Regions from separate parts of the Homo sapiens genome. Here region 2 is linked to region 1. The links come from fine-mapping of genetic effects on gene expression. Tissue or cell type: whole blood. Region 1 holds a variant in brackets; the other region holds the start of a gene. All regions are shown on one strand. Distances are between the middles of the regions.

What was found. PIP is the estimated chance that this variant, and not a neighbour inherited with it, causes the effect.
Region 2: it holds the start of CILP, and the variant in region 1 is fine-mapped to the expression of CILP in whole blood (TOPMed, PIP above 0.99). The same link has a PIP of 0.9 or more in blood mononuclear cells.

The regions. Positions count from the first base shown.
Region 1 is chr15:65,243,972-65,252,075 of GRCh38, reverse strand. It overlaps a transcript of PARP16 not described here. Among named protein-coding and RNA genes, the nearest start is that of CILP, 37 kb to the right of the region's middle. The variant G/A (reference allele first, on the strand shown) is at 3,977.
Region 2 is chr15:65,206,987-65,215,081 of GRCh38, reverse strand. It overlaps CILP (cartilage intermediate layer protein), which reads left to right and starts at 3,609. Exons shown (of 9, transcript NM_003613.4): 1 at 3,609-3,654; 2 at 5,221-5,387; 3 at 7,318-7,410; 4 at 8,031-8,095. The coding sequence starts at 5,327. RefSeq lists an enhancer at 2,079-2,980.

The DNA.
Region 1 (8,104 bases):
CCTAGGCATGTGGGCCGGGTGCAGTGGCTTACACCTGTAATCCCAGCACTTTGGGAGGCCGAGGCGGGTGGATCACGAGGTCAGGAGATCGAGACCATCCTGGCTAACACGGTGAAACCCCGTCTCTACTAAAAATACAAAAAATTAGCCGGGCGGGGTGGTGGGCGCCTGTAGTCCCAGCTACTCGGGAGGCTGAGGCAGGAGAATGGCATGAATCCGGGAGGTGGAGCTTGCAGTGAGCTGAGATCATGCCACTGCACTCCAGCCTGGGCGACAGAGCGAGATTCCATCTCAAAAAAGCAAACAAACGAACAAAAAAAAAACCTAGGCATGTGACCCAACTAGTATCTCATCAAAATGAGCCACGAGTTTTGAGATAATAGTATCTCATTTTGATATAATAATAGTATCTCATATCTTTTGATGAGATAATAGTATCTCATCAAAATGAACCATAAGTTTTGCTGGGGATCCTGGGAAAGAGACTTGCATTTTCAGTGGTCCTGAATGTGAGAGGCTGCCATCTGGCTGCCATGCAAAGTCTCAGACTGATGCCAACACAGTGGAAAGCAGAGCTGCTGTCCTGATGACGTTGTTTTGAGTACTGAATCCAGTTGTGCTTGAAGCCAGACTTTTCACTTAGGTGACCAATAAATACATTCCTTTTTATTTAACAGAGTAAGTTGGGTCTTAACGGGGAATAAACGTGGGTAGATCTTAACTGATAGCCTTTGCCATCCTGGAGCATCATTATTTTTAATGTAAATCCTTTGTTAACTATAGAAAGGTGTGAATTCCAAACTAGTGAGTCTGGATTGATGAAGTTTGACTGTCCTGACCCTTGGACTATCCCCACAAGGCACTCAAACCTGTGCAAAATAAGAGATGGGAGGCAGGGGCATGGTGACTCATGCCTGTAATCCCAGCACTTTGGGAGGCTGAAGCCTGCAGATCACTTGAAGTCAGGAGTTTGAGACCAGCCTGGCCAACATGGTGAAACCCCGTCTCTACTAAAAATACAAAAATTAACTGGGCATGGTGGTGCACGCCTGTAATCCCAGCTACTCGGGAGGCTGAGGCACGAGAATCGCTTGGACCTGGGAGGCAAAGGTTGTAGCGAGGCGGAGGTTGAGTGAGCCAAGATCGCACCACTGCACTCCAGCCTGGGCAGCAGAGTGAGACTCCGTCTCTAAATAAATAAATAAGAGATGGGAAAAACACACACACGCGCGCCACTGTGTTTTGGGGCCTTCTGCAGCCTCAGTCTCAAGGGGCCTCCTTCGGTCAGCTTGGACTGGCTTCTGGCCTCAGAAACCTCAGGGCCCATCAAAGTCCGGAAGCAGCAATGGGTAGGTCTGACCAGGGCTGTGGCTGTAAACTACACTGGAGGAGCCTGGCCCTCAGGAAGACCAGAGATGCAGTCTGCAGCAGTAGGAGAAGGGAGGAAGGAAAAGGATGCTACCGTGTATCAAGTGCCTCCTGCATGATGTGCATATTAAAAGAATTATCTCATTTAATCTTCACAGTATCCCTGCAAGGCAGATACTATTCTGTTTATTTTACAGAAGAAACAGGTTTGGAGATGACTTGTGCAAGGTTAAAAGGCCAGAAAGAGGCAGAACCAGGGCTGACTCTAAAGGAATAAGAAAGGCAGGCATGGCCAGGCACAGTGGCTCACGCCTGTAATCCCAGCACTTTGGGAGGCTGAGGTGGGCAGATCACTTGAGGTCAGGAGTTCGAGACCAGCCTGGCCAACATGGTGAAACCCCGTCTGTACTAAAAACACAAAAATCAGCTGGGCATGGTGGCGCGCGCCTGTAATCCCAGCTACTGGGCAGGCTGAGACAGGAGAATCGCTTGAACCTGGGAGGCGGGGGTTGCAGTGAGCTGAGGTCGCACCATTGCACTCCAGCCTGGATAACAGAGAGAGACTCTGTCTCAAAAAAAAAAAAAAAAAAAAAAAAAAAAGGCAAGCAGGTGCAAGGCTGCAGCTAGAGGGGCTGTCTGAGCAAAGAAGACCTAGGCTGGTGGCATAGGAAGACAAGAGTGCCGACACCAGGCCCAGTGAATAGAAAACGAGTTCCCTTTCCAGACTGGGGTTGTGAGCTCTGCTCTGTTTTATGAGCAGAAGGCACCTGCAATGTCAGAAGTGGAAACCATGGGAAGTCCCCCAACACCCACTCAATCAGAGCTCTGAGCTCATCTCCTGTAACCTTCCCAGCCCCATCATTGCAGACCCAGGAGGTGAGCCCAGAGGCACACATGGCACTGAATGTGGGGCAGGAAGGGGATGGCCCCTCCCTTCCACCCCCACTGCCTGCTCAAGCTATCAGCCTGCTCTGATTAAGTTGAAATTTTTGAGACCTTGCATCCAGGGGCTGCTGGCAGCCAAATCCCCCTGATTGCCTGAGATGTTCCTCACATCAGAGAACAAACAGTCACCCCTTTCTGGCCAGCTGGGCTCAGCAGCATTCCTGTCTCCAGTCCTGCCTGGCTGGGTGGGGCTGCAGCCCTTCGTCCACCTCCAGCAGAGGCCTGGAGGATCTGGTGAGTGGGTACAAGGGAGAAGGAAGGTAGCTGTCTGTCTCCAGGTTGAACGAGACATTTCTCCTGAGTCCCCATTTTGCCCCAGCACTGGGCACCTCAGCCTCAAGCCACTCCAGGCACAAGTCCTGTGTTTGTAATATGACTGTCACTTAAGAGGAGGCCCCCACTGGGCCACTGTCCCTGGGGTGGGAGCCCCTTCACCCCCGCCCAGGGGCTGCCTGGGGAATTAGATTCCCACACCATTCCAGCTAGATCTGAAGTCGTCACACTCAAATGGCTCATTTTACAAAAGTGGACACAGTCCACAGAGTTGAGACAGAAGCAGGACTAGAACACTGGCCTTTAATTCCCACAGCCTTGAGATGCTGTGGTTTGGATGACGCTAGGGGCTCTGAGCAAGAGGAGCTGCCCATGTTTTTGCAGAGAAGCAGGAGTGTTTTCGTCCCCTAGGCCTGTTTTGAAGATCAGGCTGGTGGCTGAGCGGTTTCCTAAGGAAGCAAGGCTTCTGGAAAAGCGCTATTCACTAGATGCTCCTAAATCATCTAGTTGGCAATAGAGCTGGGGCAGTGGAACCTGAGTGTGCTCTGCCACCATCCAGCGTCCAGCCTGGCCTTAGTCAGGCTTTGGGAGGCAACTGGGGACCAAGGGCAGAGTCCTTGGGAAGGCATAGCTCCCCACAACGTATAACATCTGCTTCCCTAACCTAGGACTCTGGCCTGGGTCTGTGGGGGAGGAGGAAGAGCCGGCTTTTTCAGCCAGTCTGCAAAAGGAATTCTAGGAACCCCCTCTGGCCGCAGACAGGAGGGGGAAGGAGGCAGACAGTGTGGGATCCAGGGGCAGTCCAGGAGTCTATGGACAAATGTCTCACTCCCAGTCTGTTTTGGGCCTGCAGCTTTGCCTTTGTCTAGCTGAGCAGATCAGGGTGGGTTTGTGTGACTTCTGGGTTTGTGTGTGTAGGCAGCTGCATTGCTGGTTGCAGCTGTTCCTCGGTAGAAAGTATGTACTTGTGTGTTTCCCTGTATGTAAGTATTCACATCTGTATAAGCCCATGTATGTGAGTATCTTTGAGGGAAAGTGTGGGCCTCTACTGCTTGCATAGTTGAATTGGTCTACCACCTGCCTACGTGTGTTTGTGGGGGTACTCATGAGGTTATTTTGGTGTAAATAATATGTCAGTGAGCCTCTGAAAGCACATATGCCTATTTGTGCAGAAGCATTCATTCACTCATTCTTGATTTATGATTTACTAATTTACTTGGACATTTTTAAAGTACTTGTTCTGTGATTGTCCCCACACTAGGCACTGGGAATCTGAAGAGGTGTCTGTGGCCAGAGTAAAGCCAGAGTGTGGCCATCTAAAGGGTGGGCCCAGGACAAGGGCCTCATGGAAAGGAACTGTGGAAAGTAGAGAGGTAAGAACAATCCGGCC[G/A]GGAGCGGTGGCTCACGCCTGTAATCCCAGCACTTTGGGAGGCCGAGGCGGGCGGATCACAAGGTCAGGAGATCGAGACCATCCTGGCTAACACGGTGAAACCCCACCTCTACTAAAAATACAGAAAATTAGCCGGGCGTGGTGGCGGACGCCTGTAGTCCCAGCTACTCAGGAGGCTGAGACAGGAAAATGGCATGAACCCGGGAAGTGGAGGTTGCAGTGAGCCGAGATTGCGCCACTGCACTCCAGCCTAGGCAACAAAGCAAGACTCCGTCTCAAAAAAAAAAAAAAAAAAAAAAAAGAACAATCCATTGGTCTAAGTGCCTGTGTGTGTTATCGCCTGTGTATACATGTCTCTGTGTGTCTGTCTGTGTGAATGTTCATATGTGTTTTTCCTAGAGGGTAGAACTCACAGCTCTCCAGCCATCCATTCCCTTGCCTGGGTAGACAGGCTGGGGTGGTGAGAGGGCAGTGACCTAAGAGTCCAAGATACTAGTCCTGTGCTCAGCTTAGACTCACTGTGATCTGGCCTCTCATCTGTAGAATGAAAGGGTTAGATCACCTCATCATTAATTGTATAGGCCTTGTGTGGTTTACAGAAGGAGGGTGATTGATTCCTGGGTTAATTAATTACTTTTTAGAGGTCAAATTGGAAGATGCCTAATTTTAGAAGCTCTGGGTTCAGACAGAACTCAGTTTGAATCCCAGCTCTGCCATATGGATTTTGTGTCCTTTGGAGTTATTTAACCTCATCAGGATTGTTGTGAGGATTAAATAAAATAATGTGTGTAAAGTGTTGAGCATGGGCCAGGTGTGGCGGTTCATGCCTGTAATCCCAGCATTTCGGGAGGCCAAGTCAGGAGCATCACTTGAGGTCAGGAGTTCGAGACCAGCCTGGGCAACATAGCCAGACCCCTGTCTCTACAACAAATTTTTAAAAAATTAGCCCAGCTTGATGACCTGTGCCGATAGTCCTGGCTACTCAGGAGGCTAAGGCTGGAAGACTGCTTGAGCCCAGGAGGTCGAGGCTGCAGTGAGCTATGATCACACCACTGCACTCCAGCCTGGGCAACAGAGCGAGACCCTGTCTTGGGAAAAAAAAAATTGTTGAGCATGATGCCAGGCACATAGTAGATGTTCAATAAATATTAGCTTCTGTTCTTATCTACAGACTTTCCAGCTTTCATATCTTACAAATGTTGGGTTCAGTAGACACGTTGACAAATTGAATTCATGTAAACCACATGTTTAGGGAATTCTGGCCCTATGGTGGTTGGGGGTGGGGACAGTGGGGGAGAAAATCTGGCCCTTTCTTCGGTACCTTCTAAGAAGTTGCCAACTGAGATCTGTGTGAGCCACTCCCTTCACCCCATTCTCTGATGTGGATCCTTGACATCTTCTCAGTCTTGTGTACAGATAAGTACTATGAAAGACAGGTTCAACACCCTCTTCTGACCTGATTCTGCCCCTGAGCCCCTACCCAGTGAGGCAGGATGTTGAGCTAAATAGGATCAGGCCACAGGGCAGAGCTGGGTCAGGTAAGTCTTCAAGCTCCCTGACATGTCTGTGCCTGCCTGACCAGCCCCAGTATGGGCACATCCAGACAGGCGGAGGGCGTCTGCCTCCCATGATTGATATTGCTGGGAGCGCATCGCTCTGCTCCTGGCTCAGGTGGCTGAGAATCATAGAGCACCTGAGAGACCAAGGAGACCTCCATGACCCCTGTGCCCTCAAGGCCTCTGGAATGGCTGAGTTCCAGCAGGTACAAGGAGAGTTGGGGGCGGTCCGGAGATAGTGCCTCTCAGCCAGGGTTGCTGGGGGTGACTATCTCGGGAATCCCCTAGAGCCTGTTAAAGCTGGCAGCTCTTATGCTCTCCCAAAATATCCCTGACCTGGAGGGACTGAGGGAGGGGTTTAGGGTGCAGCCAGGGTTGCTGAGTTGGGAAATTCTCTGGAAGTGAGCTCAGGGTGGCCGAGGCCCTGAGAGAAGCAGGGAGAGGGTCTGCCTGGAGGTCATGCTGGCCACCCCAATGGCCATCCCCAACATGGGTCACAGATAATTGGTTTGATGTTCTCTCAGCTCTAAGAGTTACCCTGGAGATGGGAGTAACTTAAACTGCAAAAGGCCCTCTGGGAGTCATTGTGACGGCCCCTCACCATATCTGGCTGCTCTGCTTGGGGCCAGAACTAGGAATTTTCCTCTTGAAAAAAATTGAAAGCAAGAGAGCAGGCAATGGGTTGTGGCCAAAGTAATGTGTTTAAGGAAATTTCTGCTTCATGCTGGCCAGGACAGGGAATGTCTGGTCAAATAGCTGCTGACGGCCAGGGTCCCTGTAAGTAAACAGGCCGCCTCTGATGGCTGTCCTGAGCTCATTTCCCTCAGCAGCGTGCAAGGGGATGATGTCACCATGAGTGGGGCCTCCTGGTCATGGAGTTTGTCAGTGAGCAGGATGGAAGCTCGGTGATTGCTGGCGGCCTGGGTGCTGTGGCCTAGTTATTGCAAACAGCTGCTTCCATACAAGCAGCTCTGACACCCTCCTACACATACTCCATGGGACTCTAGCCACATCCATGACCCCACAGCAGCGGTGTTCCTGGCGAGATCTGGGATTAACTGTCCCATATCCAGCTTCTATCCAAAGCCTCTTCCCTCAGCCAGAGAGCTGGGCTTCCCCTGGTCTATGAAGGGCACAACTTCAGTTGTAAGGAGTGGCCCCTAGAGGTACAGGCTCATGTTCTGCCCCTGCAGAGAGCAGATAGTGGCAACGTGTCCTACCGCCTGTCTCCTGGGGCTAGGCAGCCAGGTCCAGAGGGGGACTTTCCATGAGCAGAGAGCCCAGGTCAGGGGAGGTTAGGAGGTGGGGTGGCGAGGAAGCCACAAAGCCCTCTCTGTGCCTCCCCCACAGGCTCTTCCTGAGCCTTGCAGCCACGAGGTGAGGTTCATGGGATTTGAAAGCCCTGCAGCAGAATTACTGAGGAGCAGCTGCCAGTTTGGGACAGGCTCTATAGCCTCCCCACTCCCCCAGGCCATCCCTGTGTCACCTCCTGGCCAGGGAATGGGGAGCAGTAAGACTCTAAATAGAGATGGGCAAGAATCTTCTTAGGGGTAGGCCTGGGCCTTTTCCTTCTTGTATCCCCCCAGCATCCTGGCCTGGCTTTGCAGTTGGCTTGTCAGTCATACAGACCAACCCCACAGAGTAAGTGGCCCACTCAACAGCTGCCTGACCTACTCCAGGCTGACCAAATCCTCAGACCAACCAACAGGCTCACAGGAGACTCACTACTTCTGTGATGTACAGCCTGATTAACCAATAGGCCATCCTGTTAGTCTACATATTCAACAAATAGTCATTGAACACTTAGTTTGTGCCAGATCTTGTGCTGGCTGCAGGGGATACAGCCATAAACAAGACAGACAAGATCCTTGCTCTTAAGGCACTGAAAGTAAGCCATATGGCTTGGCTGTGTCCCCACCTAAATCTCATCTTGAATTGTAATTCCCATAATTCCCATGTGTTGTGGGAGGGACCCGGTGGGAGATCATTGAGTCATGGGGGCGGGTCTTTCCCGTGCTGCTCTCATGACAGTGAATAAGTCTCACGAGATCTGATGGTTTTATAAAGGGGAGTTCTCTTGCACACACTCTCTTGCCTGCTGCCATGTAAGATGTGACTTTGCTCTTCCTTCATCTTCCGCCATGATTGTGAGGCCTCCAAGCCATGCGGAACTGTGAGTCCATTAAACCTCTTTCCTTTATAAATTACCCAGTCTTGGGTATGTCTTTATTAGCAGCATGAGAACAGACTAATATAGTAAGTAAACAATGATGGAGTGTGATCTGTATATTATATATTATATGAAGGAAGTAAATGAGATTATGTGGGAGATAGTATCCAGCAGGCCATCCCCTGGATATAACAAAAGTCAGGGAAGACCTTCCTGACACATTATCTGAGACCTGGAGATTGAGAATGAGAAACGACCATGCAAAGAGCCTGTGGAAGATCTTACCAGATGGAGAAAGGCAATGCCAAGGGCTTGAGGTGGGGAAGAGCTTGGCATACTCTTGGGATAGCCAGAAGACCCATATTACTGGAACATGGTGAGGGGAAGGCAGTAAGACCCTTA
Region 2 (8,095 bases), 37 kb after region 1:
AGCTCCTTTCCCCACTGCAGGGTGCAGGGTGTGGACCCCTGGCTATAGGCTTGGGTTACAGGTGGCCTAGCTAAGCTGGGTTCCAAGTCCCTTCATCCCCTGGGCAGGGATGGGGTGATTGATGGGTTTCCAGCATGTTCCAGGCAGAAGCTTGGAGTGGCTGCAGAGTAGCCTGGCTTGCAGAAGCCCCAGATGGCCACTCGTGGCTGAGGCTGACCCACCCAGGCCAGGCCTTGGACAGTCTAGACCTACGGCCACCTCCAAAGCCCTCTCTATTCTGGGGTCCTGGTTGAGGACAGCAATAGCTTCCCCCCCAAAGGAGTCCTGGGAAGAGAGAGTGAGGGCAGGCTCAGATTTCCCCAGTCTAGCCCTGTGCAGCTCACACAGCTCATTCCTACTTGGAGACAGGAAAGGACTCTGATGGGAGTATGGGAGGAGGCAAGATATGAGACAGGTGGACGGAAATGGCATGGTGGAATTGGAACGCAGCCCTCAACCCTGTACTTACCATATTAACACGCACTGGCCACTTGGGGCTAGGTAAGTGAGGGCCTCAGTGTGAGTGCTGGGCTGAATGAGGAGACCCAGGCAGGAATCCTGGCCTAAAACACTCCACTTTGCCCAATCCTCACCCATAGGGTACCCTGCCTCCCACTACAGAAAGAGATGGAGGTGACTGGGAGGCTGGGGAGGCGTCTCTTACCCACCCTGGCATTCCACAGAATGAAGGCCTTGGAGAGCAGCTGATTACCCTGACCTTGCCCTCTGGTTTACCTCCCACTACCTTCCTTTCCTGTGTATCTCTCTTGCTGTCCTTATCCAGCCTTGGTGGTCATATCTGCTTCTCTGGACTTCCTCCTGACCTTGACTCCACACTGGCTCCTCTGACTTCTGCCAGACACGTAGGAGCAGTCGTTCCCTCCACTCTCTCCTCCCAGCTCTGTTTGCTGTCAGTACAGATGGTCCCCAACTTAGGATGATTCAAGTTACAATTTTCCGACTTTATGATGTGCAAATGTGACACAAATTCAGTAGAAACTGTACTTTCCTGTACAACCATTGTGTTTTTCACTTTCAGTACAGTATTCAATGTATCACATGAGATAATCAATACTTTATGGTAAAATAGGCTTTTTGTTAGATGGTTTCGTACAACTGTAGGCTACTGTAGGCTAATGTAAGTGTTCTGAACATATTTAAGGTAGGCTAGGCTAAGTTCTGATGTTCAGTAGGTTAGGTGCATTAAGCGTATTTTTTTTACTTATGATATTTTCAACTTACAGTGGGTTTATTGGGACATTACTATAAGCCAAAGAGCATCTGTATATCTCAAACCTTGCAATCTCAGAGCTGGCAGGGGCCTGCAAACTCACTCAGTCCATCTCCCGTTGCACACCTGAGGCCCAGGGTTACTTGGGTTCTTGCTAGTTCACGGTCGCATATCAGAATCAGAAACAGCCAGGACTAGGCTTCTGAATTCCAAATTTCAATTTTTCTCCTGTCCTTTGATCTGGGGATTGTGGCTCAGCCTGTCTGTCTGTCTATTCCTTAGGCCATCAGATTTCACATGGGGTTCACTCAGTTCAGACGTCTGCAGTCAAAGCCATGGCTGAAACTGAGTCATGGCTTGGCTCTGACAAGTTGGACCAGACTAGGGCCAACTACAGGGCTTATGAACCAAGGGCTGGTGGCCAGGAGGGAGACGGGGCTCCAGGAGATAAAGCAAATCAGATCTATGCCCCAGGTCTACTTGGGAACCATGCTGCTCAACATCCTTTCTCCACCCCCACTCTCTTCCCCAGCAGATTTTTTTTTTTTTTTTTTTAGACCAAGTCTCACTCTGTCACCCAGGCTGGAGTGCAGTGGCACGATCTCAACTCACTGCATCCTCTGCCTCCTGGGTTCAAGCCACTCTCCTGCCTCAGTCTCCCAAGTAGCTGGGATTACAGGCACACTCCACCATGCCTGGCTAGTTTTTCTATTTTTAGTAGAGATGGGTTTCACTATGTTGACCAGGCTGGTCTTGAACTCCTGACCTCAAGTGATCCACCCGCCCCTGTCTCCCACAGTGTTGGGATTACAGGCGTGAGCCACTCCACCCAGCCTCCCAGTATATCTTGTCAAAGGCAATGCTCAGAAAAAACAGCTCTTACGCACACATACACACACACACACAGAAAGACACATACACACAGGAAAAGGCATAAACACACACACACAGAACTCTCTGGCATGTGGGTATGCACTGTTGTACTACGGGATCATTTCCACGTGAGGCTCTTTCCTCTGAGTGCAAGGATACATCTCTTTTCTTGTGCCTTCCCAGTGCCCAGTCTAGAGCCTGGGAATAAGAGCTCGGTAAAGGTATGTGGAGAGAGTGAGCTGACCCTGGCGTGGATGGCCACAGGACCAGGCCTCCATCTCCAGTTGCTGGCATGAGGCAGGAAGCCCAGCCCAGGCTAGATGAGCCTGCTACATGGGGCAGGACCTGGGAAGCTCCCACTGTGGTCCTTAGTACACTCGCTCTTCATCTTCTTCCTTCAACTGGGGCTCTATCACTGTGACCAGTCAATCTCAAAATGTGATCCATGAACCAACAGCATCAATCTCATCTGGGAACTTGTTAGAATGCAAAGTCTCAGGCCCCACTGAATCAGAAACTCTGGGTGTGGGGTCCAGAAATCTGCTTTAACCGCCCTCCAGGTGATTCTAACACATGCTAAAATTAGAGAACCAGTGTCTGTGCAAACAGATAACCTCATGCTGGGGCCAGGGGGCCGGGAGTGGGGGTGTGAAGCCCCAGAGCACATGCAGCTGCATACGCCCCCTATGGGTAACACTGGCTGTTCACATGCTGGTGGATGCCTATACCTGAAGGCAGACACGTACTCACACGCATGCACATATATGAGCATCAGGGTCTCAGAAGAGTCCACATGCTGGAGCTCTGGGGTCTCAGTGGGTACCAGCAGGCACTCAGATGGAAGTGGGGGGGAGAAAGGAAGAACTGTTCTCACCAGCTGACAACCTATGCCCCACAATTCTTTTGTCCCTTATCCCTTCTGAGGTTCCCTGAGTGTTCCCTCAGAAGCCAGAGAAGCTGAGTAGTTGCCCAACTCAGACCAGACACACCCAGCTGAGAGGCCAAGGTGGCCTGTGTGCCTAAGAGTGTTTGGAGTATGTGCTAAGACCAGCAAAGTCTTTTCTCTGTGTGGGCGAGCCAGGGCCAGGGGAATGTGGGGCATCAGCAAGCTAGGCTTAGGCAAGAGCACACCATCCCCCGGGCCATGAAATGCTGCCCAGATCTAGAATTCCCCGTGGCCCCTTCCCAGGGCTGTTTCTAGTGCCCAGCCCACCTCCTGACCCCTCTCTCTGCTCTGGACTGTGATGCCCCAGGCCACTGCCCACCTGGCCCATCACCAGGTCCTGCGGCATCTCCTCCTTAGGATCTGGACATAAAATCCTGGCCTCTGTGAACTGCAAGGGGACATGGGGAGGGGAGAGGGAGGCTCATGCTCAGATCTGGTTTCGCTGCTGCTTCCTCTGGCTGGCTGCCACAGGCTGAGCCACCAGCTGTGCTATATAAGGCCGGCACTGGACTGCTGGAGAGGCGAAGGCTTGGACCCCCAGCTGAGGAGTCCTGCTCAAGACACGGTGAGCTCCACTCCTATTCCCCTCACCCCATCCCTGCACCCCACTGCTGGACTCAACTGCTCCTGCCCTCCCCTGACTACTCCATTCCCTTCTCCCCACTTCCCCCCACTTTTTGCTGCCTGATCCTTCATCTCCCACAGAGAAGACTCCCTTTCTGCTTTGGGAATCTGCTTTCCCCCATTGGCCCAAAGTCCTCTCCCTCCCCCACCTGAGGACAGGAACCCCCAGATGGTCCCACTTAGGGTTTCCATACCTCTGGGTGCCCTGCTTTATTCCCTGCGGTCAGCCAGTCTGCTTTGTCCAAGTGTTCTGAGGAGCGTGGGATGGCAAGCCTAACCATCAGGGCATATGCTGAGGAAACGGCGGAGATGCTGAGAAACCTCTGTGGGCTGCCAGATGGGAAATGGTTTTTCCACAAGGTGTCTCAGGCCACCTCAGCCTCCAGACATCCCTGGAGCAGGCTCAGGCTCAGGCTGAATGCAGTGCAGGCCAGCAGACTGCTCAGCTCCCTGCTTGGAGCCCAGAGGGATACACACAATGTGGAGGCCTTTGGGACGTCCTGGTGACTCTGCTCCCTCATCCGAGAAACAGGTAGTGGTGGGGCCAGTGGTTTTAGAGCTAGAAGGTCTGCAGCATGGGACTGGTTTTTTCTTCCCCTGGAATATCCCAGTGTTTTCAGATATGTGTATTTTTTAGAGAGGAGGACTCTTCCCTTTCCTACCACACCCTGGACTTAGGATGTTGAAGGGAACCACTTTTGAATCCCCAGAAACGAGTCAGATTCTGGGTTGGCCGGAGCTCTGGGGAGACATAAAAATGTTCTGCTCAGCTGCGGCCTGGGCCACGCACGCCCCATAGTTCCTTGCCCTTGTCCCAGGCCTGCTTTCCTCTCCTGACCCTTGCAGTTCCTCACCCACGCTCAGCAGTTACTGGGGAGCCCTGGCCTCTCACAATGCATCCCCTCTGCTTTCCGTCAGCTGGCTCCTGGCTGTGTAACTCCCAGTCAGGCCCCAAACAAAAAGGCCAGAAATGTGTTCCAGCTGCAGCCCGTGCACATCTGGGAATGTGTTCATGGAGGTGGTATGTCCGAGGCATCTGCACCCTCCAGCCAGCCTGCCTTATGAGAGGCCACTGGAGTCGGAGCCAAGTCTTCACGGCCTTAATATGTACCCGCCTGTGTGAGAGTGTGAACTCCATCAAAGGATGGCAAAACAAATGCCCCTCAGGCCTGGGTTTTAGAAGTGACGAGTCACCAAGAGGCTGCTGGGGGTGAGCCCTGGACTCTCCTCATTGCAAGGAACCTCCTCGCCCCTGCTTGTCCTTGTGCCTCATCTCCATGTGGGGCCCTGGAGCCTACCCCCAGGGATGGAACCTAGTCTGCCTCATTTGAACTCAGATTCTGAGCCTCTGCACCTCCCAAGCTACCTGGTTTCACAACTCAGGCAGATATCACTTTCATATCATTCTGTCCACCTTTCCCTCCTTGACAGGTCAAGAAATATTTCTGCTTGAGCCATAAGCGGTGATTCAGAAATATGAAACCTGACAAGCTTTGTTTCTTTACAGGTCACTGGATCTGAGAAACTTCCCAGGGGACCGCATTCCAGAGTCAGTGACTCTGTGAAGCACCCACATCTACCTCTTGCCACGTTCCCACGGGCTTGGGGGAAAGATGGTGGGGACCAAGGCCTGGGTGTTCTCCTTCCTGGTCCTGGAAGTCACATCTGTGTTGGGTATAGGCTAAGTATCTGCTGGCTCCCAAATCTTCCACTTGCCACAGTGAGGTTGTGTCTGGTCTGGGACTGAACTATGCATCTGCCTTAAGACACAGCAAGGCCTTAAGACCTGAGGCCACTTTATGGATTTATTCGTAATTTATACCCTGTTTGTTTTTCTCCAAAACTTGAGATTGTTCCCATTATTAAAACTCACAAAACAGAACCTTTATATGAGAAGAGGGATGAGCAGTCATTCAGAGGGAGGAAAAAAAGATAAGAGGGTTATTTTTAGCCCTTGAGTACCAAATTGAGCTCCGAGCTTCCTGGCAGCCAAAGTAATAGGGAATCACAGGGCATCAGTGAGATCTCAGAAGCAGGTTTGGGGTTTGGTCTGTTTTTAGTTTTATGAAGATTCTTTTGGCCCAAAGCTCAATTTCATTTAGACCCTGCAGCCAAATTTCACAGACACACCAGAACCCCTTCCGGTCTCCTTGCCCTCTGACTGCATCCTCTGGTGATACTGAGCTCTGGAAGGAACTCGTAGAAAGAATTTGTCTGGTGGAACAGAAGACTTCCCAAGGCATCTAAGCGTCAGCCCTCCCCTGCACACTCTCTCCCACCTCCTCCCCTTCCTCTCCTGATTTCTAAGCACATACTCAGGTAAAGCAAAAGCAAAAAAAAAAAAAAAAAAAAAAAAGCTCAAAACCCTCCTTTAAAGCTGTATGCCTTGCAGGATTTGTGGCTACAAATGCAGGAACAAAGGCTGTCTCAGCCTGGAGCCAACCCCTGTATGTGCCTGCCTCCTGCCTTGCTCTTTCCACCCTGACAGCTGCTGCTTGTGAAGATGATTAACATTCAACCATCTGAGGGGAAATCAGATTAGGTTGATTAAAAGAGCTCCTATCACCCCAATTAAGCAGCATAGAGAATTCTGATTTGGCTCCTGGAGTAAGCGTTAATTGCCTGTCAAAGCTTCTGCAGCCCTCTGCTCCGCATTCTCCTTCCCATTCTGGAGACCCCAACCCAGCCTCAGGTAGGGTACAGCTGGAACTGCTTGTGGCCCGAGGACCCTGTACCCATCCTCAGGCAGTCCCTGCCAGCCTCGTATGGAAAATTGAGGACCGCTGCCCCAATTAGGCCATAGGAGTCTTTATGGGAGAGTGGACTCCCAAGGGAAAGTAAATGGCCATCTATTCTGGCGTTGAGCTAAAAGAAGTTGCTAGCACTTATTCAGTATGCGTTATGTGCTAGGTGTTGTTCTAAGTGGATTTTATGAATGAGCTTATTTAATCCCCACAATACTCTAAGGCAGGAACTATCATTATCCTTATTTTATGATGAAAGAACATGGGGTCAGCTGGGTTAAGTAACTTGCCCAAAGTCACACAGTTAGAAACTGGCAGAGTCTCAGGAGCCCACACTGTCAATCTGCATATACTTCAGAGGCTTTTACGTTCTAGCTCATGGAATCCTCATGCCAACTGAATCACCCTGCGAGATGGGAATAAATATCTCCATTTTACACATGAGGAAAACAAAGCTCCATTTTGCCAAGAAGGTTTGGTGCAGACACCAAAGCAGGAGTCCCAGGCCACTGGCTGCTCAGGAGCATCTGATAATCCATTTCTAGAACAAGAGTGAAAAGGGAGATACCATTCACTGAGTGTGCACTACAAGCCAGGTCTCTTTACATTCATTATCACCTGAATAATGCACCAGGACCCTAGGATGCAGCAATTATTAGTGCATTCCTATTTTATGGGGAAACAGGCTCAGAGGAGTAAAGCTTTTCTGAGATTGCACAGCAATAAGTAGCAGAGTGGGGTTTGAACCCATGCCTGGTGCTCATGCTCCATTCACCACCTCACACTGTTTCCCTGCATCTTGAGGAATGCTGTAACTTCCAGTCCTGGCCTCTCACTTAGCTTCTCCTTCTGGCCCTCAGGGAGACAGACGATGCTCACCCAGTCAGTAAGAAGAGTCCAGCCTGGGAAGAAGAACCCCAGCATCTTTGCCAAGCCTGCCGACACCCTGGAGAGTGAGTTGTGGCTGAAGCAGGGAGGGGCTGGAGGGGCAGCCTTTAACGAGCTTCCGAAGTGGATCTCTGAAGCCAGGGCATGATGTCAGGGTCCCATGGAAACCCACTTTTACAAGCATTTGGCCTCCATCTCTGTCCAGCCAAGGAACTTAGTATATAAGACAGCTCAGAATCAGGAATCTGCCTGATACCTTTCAGGAATGCTGTGGAGCTTGCTGGGGCCAGAGCACAGGCTGGTGGGAAGGGAGTGGGGAGATGAGTATGGAGAGATGGCTGGGGACAGCTCACCAGCACCCTGAATGCCTAGCTAGACGATCTTAAAGCTGGAGGTGATGTGGCCCGAGCCACATGAAGAAAGCTCACCCTGACTGCAGGGTCAGGGATGGGTGTGAGTGGCATTGAGGAGGAGCCTTGATGTGGAAAGTGACTGACATGGTTCAGTCAGGCTGATGAGAGCTTGAATGGAGGCCTCAGCAGTGGCAGGTGTAAGAGGGGATTGGAGAGATACTGGAGAGACAAATGTGATAGGGCCTGAGGCCAGCTGGGGGTGGGTGAGAGGGAAAGGAGAACTGGAGCGCACCAGGATCACGGCTCCTCCGCAATTTGGCTATGTCTCTCAGGCCCTGGTGAGTGGACAACATGGTTCAACATCGACTACCCAGGCGGGAAGGGCGACTATGAGCGG